5 separate regions of the Homo sapiens genome follow, and regions 1, 2, 3 and 5 are each linked to region 4. The links come from fine-mapping of genetic effects on gene expression. A gene starts in region 4. Each other region holds a variant in brackets. All regions are shown on one strand. Distances are from middle to middle.

Region 1 (4,116 bases), 86 kb after region 4:
GACTCTGGGCTTCATTCACTGGAAAAAGCACAAAGAAAGACATTCTAAGCTGTCAAGACGTGGTAGGTTCAGCAAATAATACTAGTTACAGTAAAAAGATGTGAGCTGTTGCTACGCTTAAGCATTCGTCGTGCATTCTTTCATTTAACAAGCCATCCCTCAAAACCCCTGTGACACAGATACAGTTGGTCCTTATTACTTGCACATTCTGTATTTGCAAATTTGCCTGCTTGCTGAAATTCATTTGTAACACCAAAATCAATACTCGCAGAGCCTTTGTGATCATTTGCAAACATTCTCACGGTGGTGAAGATGTGAGTTGCCCAACGTGCATGTTCCCAGCTGAGGTCAAACAAGGCGACAAGCGGCCTTCTTGTTTCAGCTCTCATACTGTAAACAAGTGTCCTCTTCACGGTCTAGTTAGTGCCACGTTTTCTGCATTTTTGTGTGGTTTTTTTTTTTTTTGGCGATTTTGCTATTTGAAATGGCCCCCAAAGGCTGTCTAGTGTTCCTAAATGCAAGAAGGCTGGGACGTGCCTTGTGGAGAAAATAACGACTGAGTGTTAGATAAGCTTTGCCCAGGCATGAGCTACAGTGAGTTCAATGTTAATGAATCAACAATATGTATTAAATATAGTGTCTTTAAACAGAGACATGCTTAAAACAAGGTTATGCATTGATCGTTTGATGAAAATGTTGTGATCAGAGGCTCACAGGAATTGAACCAGTATTTCCCCTAGGGGCAATGGTTCAGTATTCACGATTCTGTGTTTGTAGTGACTTCATAGAGCATAACTACTGCAAATAATGAGAATCGACTGAACTTTTTTTTTTTTTTTTTTTTTTTTTTTTTTGATACGGTGTCCTCCTCTGTCACCCAGGCTGGAGTGCAGTGGTGCAATCTTGGCTCACTGCAATGTCTGCCTCCTGGGTTCAAGTGATTCTCCTGCCTCAGCCTCCCAAGTAGCTGGGATTACAGGCACGTGCCATCACGCCCAGCTAATGTTTGTATTTTTAGTAGAGACGGGATTTCACCATGTTGGCCAGGCTGGTCTCAAACTCCTAACCTCAAGGGATCCACCCACCTCGGGCTCCCAAAGTGCTGGGATTATAGGTGTGAGCCACCGTGCCTGGCCTCGTGTGTACTATTAACTCTGTTGGTCACATAAGAAACCAAGGCTAAGAGACTAGACGAGCTACAGGTAGTAATAGCAGAGCTGGGGCTGAAACCTGGGCTGGTGGGGCACTAGGGGGCTTCACCCCATGAATGTGGCCTTGTGATCCAGTGGGGACCACAGGGGACCTGGCCTGGAAGAAAGGTTTCTTTTTTAGGGCACCCCATGAGCAGCCTGCCTCCCCACTGCACTGGCCTCTCCAGTTTCTACGTGAACACAGAAGCTCCTTCAGCCCTCCTGGGCTGCAGCCACAGAGCTGTTGCTGGGCCGTGGTTTTCCCCTAAGTGGGTGGAACAGTGGCTCCGTGTCCAGAGGCCGGGCACCTTTGGTTTTCCTTTGCCCAGCCCAGCCCTGGCAGGGGAGGCACAAAGGAGGCATCTGTGACTGAGCACGGAGGCCAGCCAGTCTCCCGACACCAGCCCATCCGGTCTGCTGTGGCCTCCTGTTTATTCAGGGGATAAACTTGGGCAGGCCCCAGGGAGCCGCCCTCTCCCCAGCCCCACCACCTTCTCCACAGGGCAGAGTCTGCAGCCCTTCTTCTGTCTTTTGTGGGGTAGCTTGCGTGTTGTGGTTTGGGATACTTCTTCATCCCAGCATCACTGAGATAATTTAGGAGACAATTGCGGGGGACTCTGCTTTCAGAGTGGAGTTACAAGCCCTTCAGTGTGTGTCCTTCCAACCCCAGAACAGACTCAGAGTCGTCATCGTCCACTGTCATCCCGCCTCTCAGGAGGCCGCTAAATCTGAGACTAATGGCTGCCACCTGGAGTGTTCCTCAGGCAGGGAGCAACCACACGACTGTGAGGAGGGGGCACTTACCTGGTGGGGGGCTCAGTGCTCCCCTGTGGGGCTGAGGAAGGAGCCTGGGCTTGGGGAGAAGCTGGGTGCTCCCCGCCCACCCTCCTTGACCCATCAGATATAGATGAGAAGCCACGGCTGGGAGGGTGCGAAGCTGACAGCAGAGCCCCAGGTCCCCAGACAAGCTGTGGGGAGAAGAGCAGCGCGGGCGTCAGAGGCGCCTGGACAGGCAGCCGGCAGGTCCACAGCAAGGCTGCACCTTGTTCTTCCTTGGTCTCTGGGTGGCCAGCACTAGGTCTGGCCTGCGGTTTCTGCTCAGTGATTCTTGTTTGAGTAAATGAATGACGGGGTGAATGAATGAATGGTCTTGGTTCTATGATGGTTACTTTGGGGAAGTTATTTTATTATACAAAACCGAGCCTCTCTTTTTTACATAGGATAACGGCTAGGTGCACAGTCTCTGGAGCCAGGCTGCCTGGGTTTGACTCCTGGCTCTCAACTTACTAGCTGTATGTCCTTGAGTAACCTCTCTGAGCCTCAGTTTCCCCATCTG[T/C]AAAATGGGGATAATACCTGCCTCGTAGGGTTGTCGGGAGGATTAAATGAGCTCATATCATGTGAAGCACTAGAACGGAGCTTGTATATATTAAGTGCTATGTGGCCATTTGCTGTTAATACTTTTTTTTTTTTTTTTTTGAGACAGAGTCTCTGTCACCCAGGCTGGAGTGCAGTGGCTAGATCTCGGCTCACTGCAACCTCCACCTCCTGGGTTCAAGCGATTCCCCTGCCTCAGCTTCCTGAGTAGCTGGGATTATAGGCGACCACCACCACACCTGGCTAATTTTTGTATTTTTAGTAGAGACGGGGTTTCACTATGTTGGCCAGGCTGGTCTCGAACTCTTGACCTCAAATGATTCACCCGCCTTGGTCTCCCAAAGTGCTGGGATTACAGGCATGAGCCACCGTGCCTGGCCAGCTGTAAATACCTTTAAGATGAACATAACGTCTGCCTTCCGCGCGTGTTGGGAGCCTGGTGCATTGTTTGCCCAGGTGTGCTCTTCTCAGAACACTGATCCCTTGTGTTGTTAAATGTTAAATAAGAAGGGTCCTGTCCAAGCCCAGTTGCCTTAAGGAAGCCTGGGGTTAAAAGCTAGGGAGGCTTCTCTCCTGCAGAGGTGCCTGTGACATCTTCAAGAGGGAGTGAAGAATTTCACCGGCTGATTTGACCACAGATCAATTTCTTGCTATCAGAGTGGGATGGGGTTTCCACAAAACACGTCTTTGAAGACAACAAATACTGCTTCCTTCCCTCCCTCCCTGGAGCCCTGGCCTCATACTGCTTAGCTTATCTGGTAGCAGCCAGGGAAATGGCAGGATGCATCTCCCTGGGCTTAGAACTGGGGCAGGAGGCAGCAGCCAAGTCAACAGCAGGTAGTGGCCAGTCCTCAGCTCTAAGCCAGCAGGTAGGACTGCAGAGGTGCATGTGGCAAATCATAGACACCTGATGTGGGCTGCCACTGACTGAGACACTGCTGAGCTGGACAGCAGACACCTGCAACCCAAGGATGATGAAGAGGAACTTGAGGCCTTTAATTGCTCATGGTCTTCAATCATCCTTACCAATTAGTTTCTGCTGCTTCCCAGGCAATTCCGGTTGCTGTAAGTAAGCCAGTGATGCAACAAGAGAGGCAGAAGGGAGTCCTGAACGTGGGCCAGATCTGGGTACAAATCTTGTCTCTGCCACCACTTAATCCTCTTGAGCCTCAGTTTCCTTATTTGTTTCATGAGTGCAGTAACATCTACTCTACAAGATTGTTGGATTAAATTAAGAAATGAAGTGGCTGGCACATAGTACATAGCTGTTATCAACAATAGGCTGCAGGGAAATGTTCTCTCCTTGGTTTCAGGGCCCTTGTCCAAGGTTCCCATTAGGTAGAGGAATTGTTTCTTCAGAGTTGAGATCTGATGTGTCTGGGAAGAGGGCAGCCTGACTTGAGAAGGTCTCTCACCTTTCAAATGCCCATCTCAGGAACTTCAGAAAAGGCTTCCGCTAATTCAAAAATCAAGTCCTCAGCTTTCCATTGTCTGTGGGTGAGGGATTCTCAGTCCCATTCAGGGCCCTAACCATTCCCCAGGTGATTACTGT
Region 2 (4,116 bases), 100 kb after region 4:
AAGGACGTGCAGCCTACAAGGGTCGTATGAAGGTCAGAGGGGTGGCTGTGATGGCCCAGAGCTGTGGGGTCTGAGTGACCTCCAGCCCAGAACCGCCCAGCAGGCCAGTGCTAGTCATGCCAGCACTTCCAAACCCACTTCTTGACTGACCTTAAGAAATGGGAAGTTTTCCAACTGTTGGTCACATTTTTAATTGATCTAACCTGCTTCATCTTCCCAGACAAGTGGGTTCTTTCCCAACAATGTAAACATTAATTCAGATGAAAACAAAGCTCTGTAGAAGTTATTAATATCTGTGGCTCTGCTCATGGGAGCCTTTCTCTTTTGAGGTACCAGAAAGAGGAAGGCCTAAACAGAACTGGAGTGTGGGAGAGTGGGCGGGCTCTCTCTCTTTAGTCATCTGTGGTCACCCCCCACCCCCCTGCGCTGTGCAAGCCTGATACCATGGAAAGGGAACCCACATTTCAAATAGCTGCTGCTGCTCCGGTGAACTTGGGGTAAGGGAGCTGAGGGGTGTCTACCCTCTGCACCAGACTCAAGTCTCCCTCCTAGAATAGGAGCGAGAATAGCAGCAAGTCCCTGCCCCCTGCTCCCTCGTTTTCCTGGAAGAAATGCCTACCTAAGACACAGACACCTGCATCCCACGCTTTGTCACCCAATGCCTGTTTCCTTAAGGAGAAAAAATGGGCGCCAGAAAACTTCTAGGTCTAGATCCTGGCTCTGTTGCTCGCTAGTTGTGGAACTTTGGACAGGCGACCTCACCCTTCTGATTTCACTTTCCCTGGCCTCACTCTTCACTCCCTCTGCCTGTGGGCAGGCAGCAGCATGGTTCTGTGGGGTCCTAAGGACCCCAGGGAGTCACTCCCACATTTGGGCAGCAGCTTTGGGTTTAGTCTGTCCAGTTTAGGGCCCCAGATCGTATATGTGTGTGTGCACACACGTGTGTGTTTGCGTGTCAGGCAGCATTCAGATGGGGCATCCTGTTCATCCACCCCCCTGCTTTGGGGTGGCTGAGGGTTGGGGTGCCCAACAGGTAGAATGGGGTTGATAATAGCACCTGCCTCGCAGGGTGATGGTGAAAATAAAATGAGCCATGGTGATTTAAGATGCCCAGTCTAGGTTCTGGCCTTTACTTAGTTGACACTCGTGGACGGTTAGATGGTTAGAGAGGCAGGCCAGTTTAGTACCAAAATGCCTTCAGAGTCAGGCTGTCTCTGGGTTCAGATCCTGGCTCTGCCCCTTGCTATTGGTGGAATCTTAGACAAGTTATTTAATTTCTCTGTGCCTCAGCTTCCCCACCTGTAAAACGAGGATGAGGCTAGTACCTCCCTCACAGGGTTCGTGGTAAGAGGATGAGGCTAGTACCTCCCTCACAGGGTTCGTGGTAAGGCTCAAATATGTAAATGTATGAAAAGCACTTAAAACTGTGCTTTGGGGTGAGCTGTTATTCTTAGTTCCTGCAGGCTTCAGCTGGTTTGATTGTTGTGACTAATAACCTTCGCACCTAACAGAATGTCTTGCCGGGGAGTGTCATGGCCCAAACAGGAAGGTGGCAGCGGAAAAACTCCATTACTCAAGGGCCTTTGCAAGAGAAGCAAAACTCTACTTCCTCAGCTTCTGTGGGTTTTTAAATCTTTTTTTTCAATTTTAATTTTAATTTTTT[T/TA]AAAAAAAAAGTAGAAATGAGGTGTTACTATGTTACCCAGGCTGATCTCGAATTCCTGCCCTCAGGTGATCCTCCCACCGCGGCCCCCCAAAGTGCTGGGATTACAGGCATGAGCCTCTGCACCCAGCCAGCTTCTGTGTTTTTAACAAACCTTGCTCGGGCTCTGCAGATACAGATTCTGGGTCTGGGGTGAAGTGACTAGCATTTGTGTGGCAGTCTGTGAATGAGATGTCAAGCAGCTTCCGAGGTAACAGACTTCTCCCCAGGTTCAGTGAGGGAGACTGTACCTAGCCTGTCCTTCCAGAGGCTGCTCACACTGCCAGGCTGTGGCTGGCCTGCCAAGGGGAGGATGGCCCTCCACACCTCGGCCCACCTGCCCTTCACCTCCAGCCAGGGCCTGCCTGTCCATCCACCTGTGCCTAGCTGGAAAAGCTGGCTTGGAGCAGTGCTGCCCATCTGCCACTGCCAGCCCCCAGCATCTGCCTTATTAAAATGCTGAGGCTCTGGCTGGCCACAAGCCCCAGGAGATTTGGAGAAAAGCCAGACAAAAAGGTGCAGGCTGTGCCACCGCCCAGCCACACTGGGTGACTGCCCTTGGTAGTTAACCACAGAGTCATCCAGCTTGGCTGCCCAGAGGTCTATAGCTCCACTCAGGCGAAGCTGGCTAGCCTGGCCTAGCCTGGCTGGTTAGGTGGGCAGGACAGCCTCCACTTGACTGATTTTTTTTTTTTTTTTTTTTTTTTTTGAGACAGGGTTTCGCATTTCTGCCCAGGCTAGAGTGCAGCGATACAATCTTGGCTCACTGTAGCCTCGACCTCCTGGGCTCAAGTGATCCTCCCACCTCAGCTGCCTGAGTAGCTGGGTGCACCACCACTCCCGGCTATTTATTCATTTGGTAGAGATGAGGTCTCACTATGTCACCCATGCTGGTCTCAAACTTCTAGGCGCAAGCAATCCTTCCACCTTGGCCTCCCAAAGTGCTGGAATTACAGGCATGAGCCACCATGCTTGACTCGTCTGACTGATGTTAGGCAACCTTGAATTGATGGTCTCCTGGTGAAATGAGGGTTCTTGTTGACAAGGCAGGTCTGGCCAACACATTTTTGTATGATTATCTGCACGATTGCATCAGTTATTAGCAAAGAAGGATTTTATAGCAGCAGGTGTGTGCTCATGTGCTTGTGTGGAGTTGTTGACTGCCCTTCACTGCACACACACAGTCTGCGGAACTGTGACTGAATCCCTGTTCCCTACTCACACTTACATGGTATTTTCTGGGATTCTAAGGCACATTCTTTTTTTCCTTTCCTTTTTTTCCATTTAACATCTTAAATTGGAATGTGTCGCACATTTGCGGATTATTATAATTTGACAGCGCCTTTTTCTTGGCATACTTGAAATAACGGTGCATTGTAAAATCAGAGGTGTCTCAGATTTAATGAAATAGAAACTAGGTAACCTCTGGGGAACTTATATAATTTGTCCAGTTCCTCCAAGGATGCAGGTGGAGCCACCTTGTAGTGGTGGCAGATTATATGAGGGGACCCTGATGTGGTTCAAGGGGACAACCTTGGATTGGGCTTAGATTCCAGCTTTATGGCTCGCCAGCTGTGTGGCCTTGGCAAAGTAGAGCGACCTCTCTGAGCCTCGGGATTTTCCTCCCACCACATATGAATCGTGGCTCCACAGTTGTCATGGCTGTGTGCAAGGCAACATTCCCTGTTTCTCTTGCTGGGTATCATCTAAGGTCTGCCCCGTTCCATCTGGGTTAAGAGGGAAAATGAGGGCTGGGAGTGGGTCACTGGCCTTCCCAAGGGAGCAGAGGGAAACTGGTGTTCCAAGGGCTTCTTGACTCAGTTTATAATCCTTGGACATTACTCTTCTTCCCTCGTCCTTCTCCCCCTTTGCCTGAGTTTTCATTTTCACATGTGTTTCCTTTTAGCAATTTTCTTTCAAATCTCTCCTCTCCCTTTCTGTAAAGTCTTCCCACATGTAGCCTCTTTGAAGCTCCCTGGGGTGGGAAAGGGGAGGAGGGCTCTGCCTGATGGCCTGGATGGCACAGACCTCAGAAGCCCAGTGTGCTGTGGTCCCTGCAAGCTTCAGCTCAAGTCCAAGTTCTGGTACCATCAGCGTTGCTAACTGCCATTCCTGTGGCTGCAGGGTCAGCCTGAGTCCACTCCAGTGCACAGTGTTGTCCATGGGGTGCTGGATGTCGCATCGCTGAGAGCATTTGGTATTCTCTGTACCCTCCTTGCTGCGTTAAAATCAGACCTGGTTCAAATCCCAGCCCTGCGACCTTTCACGAATTACTTAACCTCCTTGAACCTGTGTATTCTCATCTAAATAGTGGCTGATGCACAGAAATACCTGGCACACAATAGGTGCTTAGCAGATGCGTGCTTTCCTTGTTCTCAAATGTTTAAGACCCCTTTGTGGACAGGCACGATGGTTCA
Region 3 (4,116 bases), 92 kb after region 4:
TCCTCCCCTGCCACCTCCTCTTCTTGGATGACTGAATGAGTCAGGGGGCTTGTTTGTTAGGGAGGAAACACTGGTTTTCTCACCATTTTCCCCCTTTCGTTGAGCTTGAATGAGTAAGAAAACCCATTGTTTATACATGCACAGGTTGACACAAATAGAGCTTGGAGCTTCTGAAGACTCAACCTGGGCTCCAGAGTCAATAAGACCAGGTCCCACCCCGTCTGCACAGCATCCAGCCAGATGTTACAAGAGAACCCAGCCCCGGGGGCAGGCTGGTGAAATCATCCCGGCCAGTGGACAGTCACCAACACCGGAGTGTTTGCCAAGGGAAACACCTTGTTTCCACAGTCCAAGATCCTCTCCTGGGCTGGCACAGAGTTGCAGAATTGGAAGAGACCTAAAGATGTGCTGTCCAGCTAAAAGCTCTTCCAGGGGAGGAGTCTGAGGCCCAAAAAGTTAGGGAGAGCCCAGAACCCAGGCCTCCTGCATCTTCACTGGGTTTGGTGGGAAGAGGCAGAGGAAGGAGTGGTCAGAGAAGATGCCAGCTTAGTGCAGACCCCTAGACACATCCCCACTGGCGAGAGAGGGCTTTTGGATCCAAGAGTCATTCCCATTTTTTTTCTAAATAAAAAATTGGGGGCCAGGTGCGGTGGCTCACGCCTGTAATCCCAGCACTTTGGGAGGCCGAGGCAGGCAGATCACTTGAGGCCAGTTCAAGACTAGCCTGGCCAACATAGCAAAACCCCATCTCTACTAAAAATACAAAAAGTTAGCTAAGTGTGGTGGCATATGCCTGTAATCTCAGTTACTCAGGAGGCGGAGGCACAAGAATCACCTGAACCCAGGAGACAGAGGTTGCAGTGAGCAAAGATCGCACCACTGCACTCCAGCTTGGGCGACAGAGGGAGACTCTAAAAGAAAAAAAAAGAAAAAAAAAAGAAAAGAAAAAAAATTAGGAATGACTTTCCTTTGGGGTCAAGAGGCCTCTGCAGTCTCAGAGTCCTGCCTATTTGCTTGGTAGTCCCTTCCCTAAGCCACTGCTTAAGTCATCAAATACTGAATTTACCACCTGGGATGAAAGCTGAGATTTAAGAGTTGTAGCTGAACTTCCTGAGCGTGGAGTCAATGGACCTCTGAGAGAGAGGTGAGAGAGGACAAGTACTTGTGGTAAAGTCCTAGCCAGCTGCCAGGGGGGCTTTTCCACACATAGAGCCCCAGCTGGGCAGAAATAATGTCCTCTGGCCGGGGGCAGTGGCTCACACCCATAATCCCAGCACTTTGGGAGGCCGAGGCGGGCGGATCACGGGATCAGGAGTTCGAGGCTATCCTGACCAACATGGTGAAACCCCGTCTCTACTAAAAATACAAAAATTAGCCAGGCGTGGTGTCATGCGCCTATAGTCCCAGCTACTCAGGAGGCTGAGGCAGGAGAATCGCTTGAACCCTGGAGGCGGAGTTTGCAGTGAGCCGAGATCATGCCATTGCATTCCAGCCCGGGTGACAGAGTGAGACTGCATCTCAAAAAAAAAAAAAAAAAAAAAAAAAAAAGTAAAGAAAGAATGTCCTCTGTGTGTGCGTTGACAGAATCAAGCCCTGCTAAGATGGACCAGGTTTGACTGATGCTCACAGTCCTGATTAATGACTGGTGTCCACCTTGGAGAGCACTAGACTGAGAGTAATGCAACCTGGCTCTACTCCTGGCTCCACCACTAACTGAGTGTGCTACTTGTGAGGGGAGATGCCATTTCCCACCTCTGGGGCTCATTCCCCTGTCTGGGAAATGGTTATACTATACCAGTGATTTTAAATATTTTTAAAGCCATAGAACCCTTTATTCACATGAAGTTTCATACAGAAGACAGCATGTACAGCAGACAGAAGTGGAGCTATTTTTGTGGTTCCCCTGGAGCACATCTTCCCTTTTGCGAAGTCTCCACAGAACCCTGAGGGTTCCAACAAACTCAGTTTGAGAACAACTTGCCAGACTTTTTGTTTTAGCTCCAATACTATTTATGTCAGCTGTTGTTTGTTCACTTGGCTAATATTGGTTGGCATCAGTTGCTTGGCTAATGTTAACATTAGGTAATGTTCAGAAGGGTTCTTTTCTCAAAATAATGATCATGAAACCATATATATATATATTTAGCCAGTCGTTCCACATGGCCCCAAACATGTGCAGAATGTTGCTTCTTTACACCATCCAATGTTGAGCTAACTCTTGCATGGTGGCAGCGAAAGAAAATAGACACAGAGAGGCCAGGCATGGTGGCTCATGCCTGTAATCCCAGCATTTTGGGAAGCTGAGGTGGGGGGATTGCTTGAGCCCAGGAGTTTGAGGCTACAGTGAGCTATGATTGTGCCACGGCACTTCAGCCTAGGCAACAGAGCAAGATCTTATCTTTTTTTTTTTTTTTTTTTGAGACAGTCTTCCTCTGTCACCTAGGCTGGAGTGCAGTGGCACAATCTTGGCTCACTGCAACCTCCACCTCTCAGGTTCAAGTGATTCTCCTGCCTCAGCCTCCAGAGTGTCTGGGATTACAAGCGCTCGCCACTACACCCAGCTAATTTTTGTATTTTTAGCAGAGACAGGGTTTCG[T/C]CACGTTGGCCAGGCTGGTCTCGAATTCCTGACCTCAGGTGATCTGCCCGCCTCGGCCTCCCAAAGTGCTGGGATTACAGGAGTGAGCCACTGCGCCGGGCCTGACATTGTCTCTTTAAAAAAAAAAAGGAACCTCACAGGTAATGCTAAGAGACCAGGGTACCTAACTCAAGACCTTCCTTCCCCACATCCTCATAGGTGGTGCTATGCTCAGAAGGCAGGATTATATTTCCTATTAACTCACTCTTAGCCCCCGTTTGAACCAAGGACACTGAATCCTAGCCTGTGTTAGAGCCCTCAGATCCCATATTCATCCTGTGTCTAATCTCACCCATCAGATACAGTCACCATCCCCACCCCACCCCCCACTGGACTATCATTGCTTCTCTGAACCCTGCTGGAAAGTGTTAGCCCTTCCCTCAAAAGTCAGGGTCCTAAATTTTCCCTCAGGCTGCCTCTAATCCTCACCTCTGTTCCCCTCAGCCTCTTGCCATAATGATCATTAGTAATAGCTACTGTTTATTGGTTACCTGCTCTGTGCCAGGCTCTGTTCTATGTATTTTACTGGTCCTGATTATTTTGATCCTCACAATAGTTCTAAAATACATACTATTATTATCTCCAATTTAAAGATGAGGAAATTGAGACACTGGGACTTAAACTTGCCTACGTTCATTTAGCAACAAGGTGGTAAAGCCAAGATATGGCCCTTGGCCCCGGCACCCATGCACAGAACCAGTGCGTCAGACTGCAGCTCACTCATGCTGCTGGTAGTGACTAGGAACTGCCATTTATTGAGCACCTGCAGCATCTTAGGCATTGCACTAGACACTTTATCATTTCATTGAAACTTCACAACTGCAAGAGGAAATGTCTTATTTCCATTTTCTAGAGGTAGAGACTGAGGCTCCAAAACATTGACTTCCCTTGATAAGTGGAACCGGGCAGGCTTCAAACCCAGGAGTGTTCAATGCATCTGTGGCCTTTCTCTGTCACTCTGCTTTTAAGGACAAGTACCTGCAGACATTCCCCACTCCACTACCTTTGAGAAAAATAAAGAAGGACCTACTGATACCACCCGTTCCATAGAGCTCTTGAGAAATGTCGCTCAGGCTGCCCATGGTGGGGACAGGGAGGGGGCTTGACAGGCCTGACTTTCTCCATTGACCTTCTCTGGGAGAGAGTCACGACCAGAGAAGGGATGATCACCCTTGGTTTCTGCTTTTCTTTCTTGGTTCTGGACGATCCTGTCATGTGACCTGCTTTGAGCCTAATAATCCTTAGGGGCAACATCGGACTTGGAAGGGAAGAAGGGAAACCAAGATAGAACCCCTGGACTCAGCCACATCCTAAAACCTTTTGGGACACTGCTGAGCTTAAGGTCTCAGGGTGGAGATGGGAAGGCAGATAGAGTGGGCCCAGGGTGCATGGGCTCAATCGCATACCACACCTTTGAGGAGTGCCTAAAATTAAGTGTAGTCACTGTGCTAGGGTGTACAACATCCTGTGAGGTACCATTC
Region 4 (4,116 bases):
CCTCTGCCAGCTGAAGTGGGTGAGTCTTCCAGCTCCCCTGTCCCCAGTTAGGGGGCATTCAATGCCAGGCTGAGCGCGGAGAGCCATTTCTGCAGCCCCCACCAGGGGGCAGCCCCAGCTCCTGGCCATCTCCTTTCTGTGCTGAGCCCCTTGGGTGAGAGAAAATGGCACGAGCTGACCTTGGACGAACTAATATCGGGGTCCCAGGGGCAGGCAGCAGCCCCCAGCTTCCACTCCCTACCTCCTTGCCAGGGGGCTGGCTGGATCTCCAGCAGCCAGTCTCTCCCAGCCAGCTGCTTGTCCTTATTCTCCACTTCCACCTCCATTTTGCAGGGTAGGTCGGGGGAAAGCAGCATTGCTTAGATTCGCTCTCATCTTCAGTTGCCCTAAAAGGAAGGTACTATTATCCTCACGGTACAGGCGAGGAAACCGGCTAAAATATGCTAGTATCCTGCTGAGCGGCATCCAGCTAGCAGAGACGCTCCTACTCAGCCGAATACCCCTACTCCACTCCCACGGCCTCCCCTTTCCCGCTTTCTCACATTTCGGACTCCTCAATCCTCAGAACCACAGGTCTCTCTTCCCAAGAGGTGTTGCCTTTCGTGGCTCTCAGACGAACTGAAGGGTCAAAGGAGAGTAGCTAAAAGCCAGGTTCATCCCAGGAGCCGGGGCTGGAAAGAAGAGGTCCCCGCCCACTGTCAGAAGGCAAATGGCAGTCCCTGCGCAGGATATATTCAGGGTTGAGCAGGAAGACCACAGAGGTACAAACCGAGGCCCAGCTAGGGGAGGCCATGCAGTTCACCCCGTACTCCCTGTCTGCGCCACTACGTTGCTCCCGGCTCCTCACATAATGGGCGGGCCCATCCCCTCTGGGTGGGGCTTCCTCTGGGCCCACTCTTGCCTGGAGATCAGGGACTTGAAGGTAATTAAGACATATCTTGCCCTGGAGGGCTTCCCAGCATGGTAGGGGAAATGGGCATCCCACTAGAGAATTAAGAATTAACTGGGCACCTGGAAGAAGGGCTTAGAACTCAGAATAGAAGATAAGATGGCGTGCCATCAGAGAAGCCTTCCCGGAGGAGGAAACCTCTGTGCTGAGCATGACAGCATAGGTGGGAGTAGACTCAGCCAAGGCCTTTTTTTGGGTTGGGGCCAGTCGTTGCCACAAAGACCTGATGTGCCGAGCAAGAAGGTGGAGAGAAGAGCCCGGCCGGGTCCTGCAGGGCCCCGAGGCTGGGCTGGGAAGTTAGCACAAGCTGGGGTGGAGGCTCCGCTGAGCACTAATGGGAGGAGGCCAGGGTCCTGACCTAGAGCCTGCGGCCAGCGGGACAGAGATTCTGTCCTGGATTCTCTGAGCTTGGGGCATGCGGGCTGCCAGGGAGGTGTGATGGTGGGAACCCGGCGAAAGGGAGGAAGCCTCTTCCAGGCGTGGAGCAGCCTTGGGCCCTGAACAGGCAGGCCTCTGGAAGCGCCTCGCTTTTCCTCCCTCCGGCCTCATCCTGGTTTTCTCCTCATCTCCCCGTCGCAGGGTCCCGGGTCCAGGCTGGGGTTCAGTTGCCTGCTCCTCCTCTCTGTGCCCTCCCCCGCCCGATGGCCCCACAAGTGCTGTCTTGCAGGAGAGCGCCGGGAGACCGCAGGGCGGAGGTGAAGAACGGAGTCCAGAGCCCTCCAGAGATGGCAGCGAATCCCGGCCCTGCCTCTTGCCAGCTGTGTGGCCTAGAGTGAGTCCGACCTCTCTGGGCCTCAGCTTCCTCCGGGATGAATGCAGTCACGGAACGCGCCAATGCAGGAGGCCCCCAGGACATCCTGAGCGCTCGGGAGACGCCAGGCGCGGCAGCGGGCACGGATAGCGGAAAGGGGCGCGACCCCGCGGAATCCTCCGGCAGGGCAGGGCCTTTGGGTGGCTCCGGGTGTCCAGAGGAAGGGGTGGGCTCGGGGACGCGGAGGGAAACTGGGGACGCGGAGGGAAACTGAGGTCGCGGAGGACGCGGCCGTTGGCAGCTCGCTGCGCCTGCCGGCCCCGCGTGGGCCGCCCCACTCGGGAGGACGCGGGCTCCTTTTGTCTGCAGCGTCCCCGCCGCCGCCGCCCCCGCCGCCTCCCCCTCTCCCTCCCATTTTCGCCGCGGCCCCCGCCCCTCCCCTCCCCGCCCCCTATTGCCCCTCCTCCTTCCCCTCCCCACTCTTCTCCTTCCCTCCCCTCCCCTCCCTTCCCCTCCGGAGCGGCTGGGGCTGCGGCGCCGCTGCTGACACGGATCGGCCGCGGCCGCCACCGGGCGGAGGCTGCGCGGCGCAGACCCAGACGGGCGGCCCCGGAGGGCGCGCGGCGATGGCGGCGGCGGGCAGGCGGCGGGCGCGGCGGGCGAGGGGTCCGGGCTGAGCTGCGGGCCGGCCCGGATGGCGGGCGGCGCGGGCTGGTCGGGCGCCCCCGCGGCTCTGCTGCGCTCCGTGCGCCGCCTGCGCGAGGTGTTCGAGGTGTGCGGCCGCGACCCCGACGGCTTCCTGCGCGTGGAGCGCGTCGCGGCGCTCGGACTGCGCTTCGGCCAGGGCGAGGAGGTAAGCTGGCCCGACCCCAGTCCCGGCCCGGGGACCCCAGCCCAGCCCCGCCGCCCCTCCCCCAGCTCCCCCGCCGGGTCACCCGCGTGGCCCGAGGCGGTGGCCTCCCTCCCAATCCCCTCCCTCCGCCGGAGCCCAGGACCTCGGCCCCCCCCGGGTATCCCTGGCCCAGCCGGGCCCTCGCTTTCCGCCCCCCGGCGCCCGTGCCCCGAGCGTCACGCGTCACGCCTAGGGTGGCTTCTGCGCCCACCTTCCTTCCTCGGCCATGCAGGTCCTTCTGAGCGGTCTGCACATCCACCCTTGTCTGGGGGAGAGAGCTGCCAGAATCCGGCCCTAGGCTCCCCACCCCACCCGGCGCTGCGGAGACCAAGATGCAAGGGTCTGTGTACGTCCTGCTGGGCCGGGCCAGGGGGTGAAAGGGACCGGTAGGGGTGCTCTGCAGCCTTGGCTCCTCGGCTGCACACACCCTGCCCAGACACGGAAGGAGGTGTCTGCTGGGGCCACCGTGTACTCCCGGGCCAGTGTCGGGTGACCTCTCATTCAGGCTCTGCTGGGCAGCCAGGCTGGCAGCTGGCTGTGTTGGTTGCAGCAGGCCAGGCAAAGCCAGGCTCGGGGAGTGGTGGCTGAGCAGAGGGCTTTCATGTGGCGGGGCCGCATCTATTTGGGGAAAGCAGGACTTACGTAGATTGTTAACAGGGCTGGAAGCGGAGGGTCGGTGCCGCCAGTAGGGTGGACGGAGTCATATCACTAAACGCACACTACACCAGTGTCCTCTGGTGCCACCGGCATGGGGACTGGGGACTGTGTCTCAAGGGGAGGACAAGACACCCACCTGGCTGAAATGGTCAGGGGTTTCCCCTGGAGCCAAAAGCCCTGAGAAGTGGGTTTCCAAGGCCATCTAAGGCCTCAGGCCCTGCATGGGGGGCCTGGGGCCATGGGCCTCAAATGGGCACTGGCTGGCATTGTGTTCCCAGAACAGGTCGGACCAGGCATTTCAGAACATGGGAGAAGCTGGGTGATGGCCAGGTTGGGCCCGTGCCTCTGCGTCACCAGAGAGTGGGAGGCGATTGAGAATCATCTCTCCACCCGCACCTGGGCATGGGCCGGGACTTGTGAGTCGCTGAGAGCTGTGGGCAGAAGAGAGTGAGGCAGCTTCAGGGCTTGAGAACTCAGGTACCCACCACAGGAAAGACCACTGCAGTGCCTGTGAGAGCCCAGACTGCCCTCTGCGGGGCTTTGCTGAGGGACACTGCCTGCTGCCACCATGACCCTTCTTCCCCAAAGGCCAGCCAAGCCCTTCCGTTTTTCCAGTGGCTCCCATCTGGGGCAGGCTGAGCAGACTCCTGGCATGGGGATAGTCGCGCTCCTTCCTCTCAGAACACAGACTGCAGGTCGGGTAAAGAAGCTACCAGCTCTGGCTGAAACCTGGAGTCCCCGAACTCAGAGCCTCAGTAGTGGGAAGGGCCTCCCAACAACCTCTGGCAGGGGCCACCGGCCTCAGCCACGTGCCCAGCAAGCCTCACCCACTTCTCCCCCAGCTGGACAGTTCCTGCCATTAGAACC
Region 5 (4,116 bases), 110 kb after region 4:
GAGCCACTGTTTTCCCTCCCAAACCTTCACTTTGAGTGAAGTGTTTTTATCATCGCTCCTCTTATCATGATGGTAAAGTATGGAGCCCCCAAAGCAAGCCCCACAGACTCTTGGTTGTGTGAGTAATTAAGCCCTCTCTTCAAAAAGCCACATCTTGAAAAGCTATAATTTGTAGCAAAAAATAGCTGCCCGTTCCAAGAACCAGGAGAGCCCTTTATACGCACCCCATTCAACTGCAGCACGTTACTTCGCTTTTGAGTTGAGTTGCTGGGACCTCTGGTCCATGCTTTTCTTGGGGGAACCAGAGATGCAGTGGCTGCATGGGAACTGGAGCTTCCGGTAGGCATTTGGGAAATCTTTTCTGAGAATTTAGATGGGACGATTTAAATTAGGGAACTCCTGATTTGGGTTTGCATGGCCCCAACTTTTTGTGTGACTCCAAAGGGGAGTAAAGAGAAAAACTGCAGGATACTTCAGGGGAAAGTGGATGAGACTCTCTGGACACCATTCCCCCACTTTTTCTTTTCCTTCTTCCTTTCTTTCTTCTTTTTTTTTAGATAGAGTTTCACTCTGTCGCCAGGCTGGAGTACAGTGGCACAGTCTCAGCTCACTGCAACCTCCTACTCCCTGGTTCAAGCGATTCTCCTGCCTCCGCCTCCCGAGTAGCTGGGATTACAGGCACGTGCCACCGTGTCCAGCTAATTTTTGTATTTTTTAGTAGAGATGGGGTTTCACCATGTTGACCAGGATGGTCTCAATCTCCTGACCTCGTGATCCGCCCGTCTCGGCCTCCCAAAGTGCTGGGATTACAGGCATGAGCCACCGCACCTGGCCACATTTCCCCATCTATAAGGAGGAAAATGATAATTACTTGCAGGGAGTTTACCACCTCTGTAAAGCACAGAGCAGACTGGCCACATGGTAGGCGCCCTAGTATGTCAACTTTGTTCTCTTTCTCTGAGTTGTGGCTCCACTAGCTATTTGTAGACAGGAGATCTTTGTGGCTTCAGGTAGGTGATGGGGGACTGAAAGCTAAGAGGAAAAGCCTCCCCTGACCTGCAGCTTCTCTTTGAGCTGGCATGCCTGGAATTCTTGGGGCTGGCTGCTGGGTTTGTTTTCCAGATGTGGAAGCAATTTAAGTTCTGTTTTCTTAATCCCCAACAGTTTGCCTCCGAAGTCCACATTCTCATTTGAAAATCAAGGCCGTTGGCTCTGTTTGCAGGGCAGAGGGTAGGCTAGATAGCCTCTTCAAACCCTTTTTGTTTAGGAAATGGGCTTACTGGGGCACTCAGATCTGGGACCCAGGGCATTCTTGGGACAGTCACACCCCATCCAGGACTTGGTTAAAAGGTGAGTTCACTTTCTCTGTGGGTTTTCCTTGGAGATGATTCACTGAGCTAAATTCAGCTGCACCTTGGTTACAAACCAGCTCTAGACCGCTGTGGAGTGGCGGGGGTGGGGCTCGGGTTTGGGCCATGTCACAGGCCAGCTGGCGTCCCTCTGAGCAGGGTGCCCACGTGTCCCGGGGGCAGTAGCGGCCCTCCTTCCCACACTGACCACAACAGAGGGAGGAAAATGCTCCAGATGTCA[G/A]GTAGCCAGAAATACTGTCTGGCACGGAGAAACTGGTAATATCTTGTTCAGTTACTGAGCGCTGCTGGTCACAGAGGCAGCCTGACCCAGGATAAAAGGCTCCTTGTGTGAGGGCCTGTGGCTCCAGGGCTAACTGCTGATTTATTCTCTTGTAAAGCAATCGCTGTGTAGGTAAAATACCTTTTACATTTGTCTTATAACTATACTAAATACAGTTTTGGGCAAACAAAAATTGCCTTTGCAATTCTAACGTCTCTGAACTGTGCATATGCTTCTCTGAAATTGAAATAGAATACTTATACTACTGAGAGAATGCACAAGAAAATGGAAGTGGCTGGGCATGGTGGCTCATGCCTGTAATCCCAGCACTTTGGGAGGCTGAGGCGGGCAGATCACGAGGTCAAGAGATCGAGACCATCCTGGCCAACATGGTGAAACCCCGTCTCTACTAAAAATACAAAAATTAGCTGGGTGTGATGGCACGCGCCTGTAGTCCCAGCTACTCAGGAGGCTGAGGCAGGAGAGTCGCTTGAACTCGGGAGGCAGAGGTTGCAATGAGCCGAGATCGTGCCACTGCACTCCAGCCTGGTGACAGAGTGAGACTCCATCTCAAAAAAAAAAAAAAGAAAATGGAAATAACTTACTTAGATTGGCATATAGTGTTTATAGAATGCCATCCTGATAATCATAGATTCACCAAGCTTTGATTTCAACAAAATATCATCTCTTAAGAAGTAGCAGTATTTCAAACTAATCGTGAAAGAGAATAAGAGAATACAACTTTTTTTTTTTTTTAGGACAGACCAAAAATAAATCCCTGAGTCTCTTGAGTAGGTTCTGGAAATCCAGTTACAGATGCTCCTTGATGGGGTTACGTCCTGATAAACCCATTGTATATTGGAAGTATCATAAGTTAAAAAAAAAAAAAGAAAAAAATGCGTTTAATACATCTCACCTACCAAACACCATAGCTTAGCCTAGGCTACCTTAAATGTGCCCAAACACTTACTTTAGCCTACAGTTGGGCAAAATCATCTAACACAGAGCTTGTTTTACAATAAAGTGTTTTATGTCCCACGCAATTTATTTTTTGTTGTTGTTGTTTTGTTTGATTTGGTTTGGTTTGGTTTTTCTTTGAGATGGAGTCTGGCTCTGTTGCCCAGGATGGAGTGCAGTGGCGCGATCTCGGCTCACTGCAAGCTCCGCCTTCCGGGTTCACGCCATTCTCCTGCCTCAGCCTCCCAAGTAGCTGGGACTACAGGCGCCCGCCACCACGCCCAGCTAATTTTTTGTATTTTTAGTAGAGATGGGGTTTCACCATGGTCTCAATCTCCTGACCTCGTGATCCGCCCGCCTCGGCCTCCCAAAGTGCTGGGTGTAATCCACCGCACCCAGCCCATCCCACGCAATTTATTAAGTACTATGCTGAAAGTGAAAGACAATGCTCTTATGGGTACTTGAAGTATGACTTCTACTGACTGTGGATCACTTTGCACCATCATACAGTTGAAAAATCAAAGTGAGCCCGGGCATAGTGGCTCACGGTGGCCTGTAATCCCAGCACGTTGGGAGGCCAAGGTGGCTGGCTGCATCACTTGAGGCCAGGAGTTTGAGACTAGCCTGGACAACATGCCAAAACCCCATCTGTACTGAAAATACAAAAATTAGCCAGGCGTGGTGGTGGGCACCTGTAATCCCAGCTATTTGGGAGGCTGAGGCAGGAGAATCACTTGAACCCAGGAGGGGGGTGTTGCAGTGAGCTGAGATGGTGCCATCGCACTCTGGCCTGGTTGACAGAGCGATACCTTGTCTCAAAAAAAAAAAAAATTGTAAGTCAAACCATTGTAAGTTGAGGACCATCTGTAGTTCTCTTTAAAGGTTGAATTGGCTGGGCGAGGTGGCTCACACCTGTAATCCTAGCACTTTGGGAAGCTGAGGTAGGTAGATCACTTGAGGTCAGGAGTTCAAGACCAGCCTGGCCAATATGGTGAAACCCCATCTCTACTAAAAATACAAAAATTAGCTGGGCGTGCTGGTGGGCACCTGTAATCCCAGCTACTTGGGAGGCTGAGGCAGGAGAATTGCTTGAACCCAAGAGACAGAGGTTGCAGTGAGCTGAGATTGTGCCACTGTACTCCAGCCTGGGTGACAGAGCAAGACTGTATCTCAAAAAATAAAAAAATAAAGGTTGAATTGAATTGACCTTTAAAAAGTTCTCTTTTGTTATCAGGGTGAGAAGGTGGGCGAAAAATCCAGACTGAGCTTGGGTTGGGGTTTCCATGAAGCCTTCCTAGGGGAGGAGAAGGGATATTGGTATATTGGTCTATTGGTCTGCTACGGCTGTCATAGCAAAGGACCACAGACTGCGTGGCGTAAACAACCAAAGTGTGTTTTATCACAATTCTGGAGGCTGAAGTCTAGCATCAAGGTGTCAGCAGGCTTGGTTTCTTCTGAGTCCTCTCTCCTTGGCTTGCAGACAGCCATCTTCTCCCTGTGTCGTCACATGGTCTTTCCTTTGCGTGTGTC

Alleles and levels. Alleles are on the strand shown, and positions count from the first base shown. SD is a standard deviation of normalised expression in the study named. Not every link is listed here.
In carriers of allele G in region 5, the expression in thyroid of the gene that starts at base 2,217 in region 4 tends to be lower than with A alone (small effect, 0.20 SD a copy in GTEx).

The links. PIP is the estimated chance that this variant, and not a neighbour inherited with it, causes the effect.
Region 1: its variant is the best candidate, but not a certain one, in a credible set for the expression of RAB11FIP4 in blood mononuclear cells (TOPMed, PIP 0.61).
Region 2: its variant is the best candidate, but not a certain one, in a credible set for the expression of RAB11FIP4 in whole blood (INTERVAL, PIP 0.79).
Region 3: its variant is the best candidate, but not a certain one, in a credible set for the expression of RAB11FIP4 in whole blood (Lepik 2017, PIP 0.71).
Region 5: its variant is the best candidate, but not a certain one, in a credible set for the expression of RAB11FIP4 in thyroid (GTEx, PIP 0.86).

The regions. Positions count from the first base shown.
Region 1 is chr17:31,475,349-31,479,464 of GRCh38, forward strand. All of the region lies in intron 3 of RAB11FIP4 (RAB11 family interacting protein 4), which reads left to right. Among named protein-coding and RNA genes, the nearest start is that of MIR4724, 57 kb to the right of the region's middle. RefSeq lists an enhancer at 979-1,795. The variant T/C (reference allele first, on the strand shown) is at 2,527.
Region 2 is chr17:31,492,985-31,497,100 of GRCh38, forward strand. All of the region lies in intron 3 of RAB11FIP4 (RAB11 family interacting protein 4), which reads left to right. Among named protein-coding and RNA genes, the nearest start is that of MIR4724, 40 kb to the right of the region's middle. The variant T/TA (reference allele first, on the strand shown) is at 1,664.
Region 3 is chr17:31,481,673-31,485,788 of GRCh38, forward strand. All of the region lies in intron 3 of RAB11FIP4 (RAB11 family interacting protein 4), which reads left to right. Among named protein-coding and RNA genes, the nearest start is that of MIR4724, 51 kb to the right of the region's middle. The variant T/C (reference allele first, on the strand shown) is at 2,597.
Region 4 is chr17:31,389,459-31,393,574 of GRCh38, forward strand. It overlaps RAB11FIP4 (RAB11 family interacting protein 4), which reads left to right and starts at 2,217. Exons shown (of 15, transcript NM_032932.6): 1 at 2,217-2,553. The coding sequence starts at 2,395. RefSeq lists an enhancer at 1,432-2,021.
Region 5 is chr17:31,498,821-31,502,936 of GRCh38, forward strand. All of the region lies in intron 3 of RAB11FIP4 (RAB11 family interacting protein 4), which reads left to right. Among named protein-coding and RNA genes, the nearest start is that of MIR4724, 34 kb to the right of the region's middle. RefSeq lists enhancers at 93-1,054, 1,055-2,014. The variant G/A (reference allele first, on the strand shown) is at 1,591.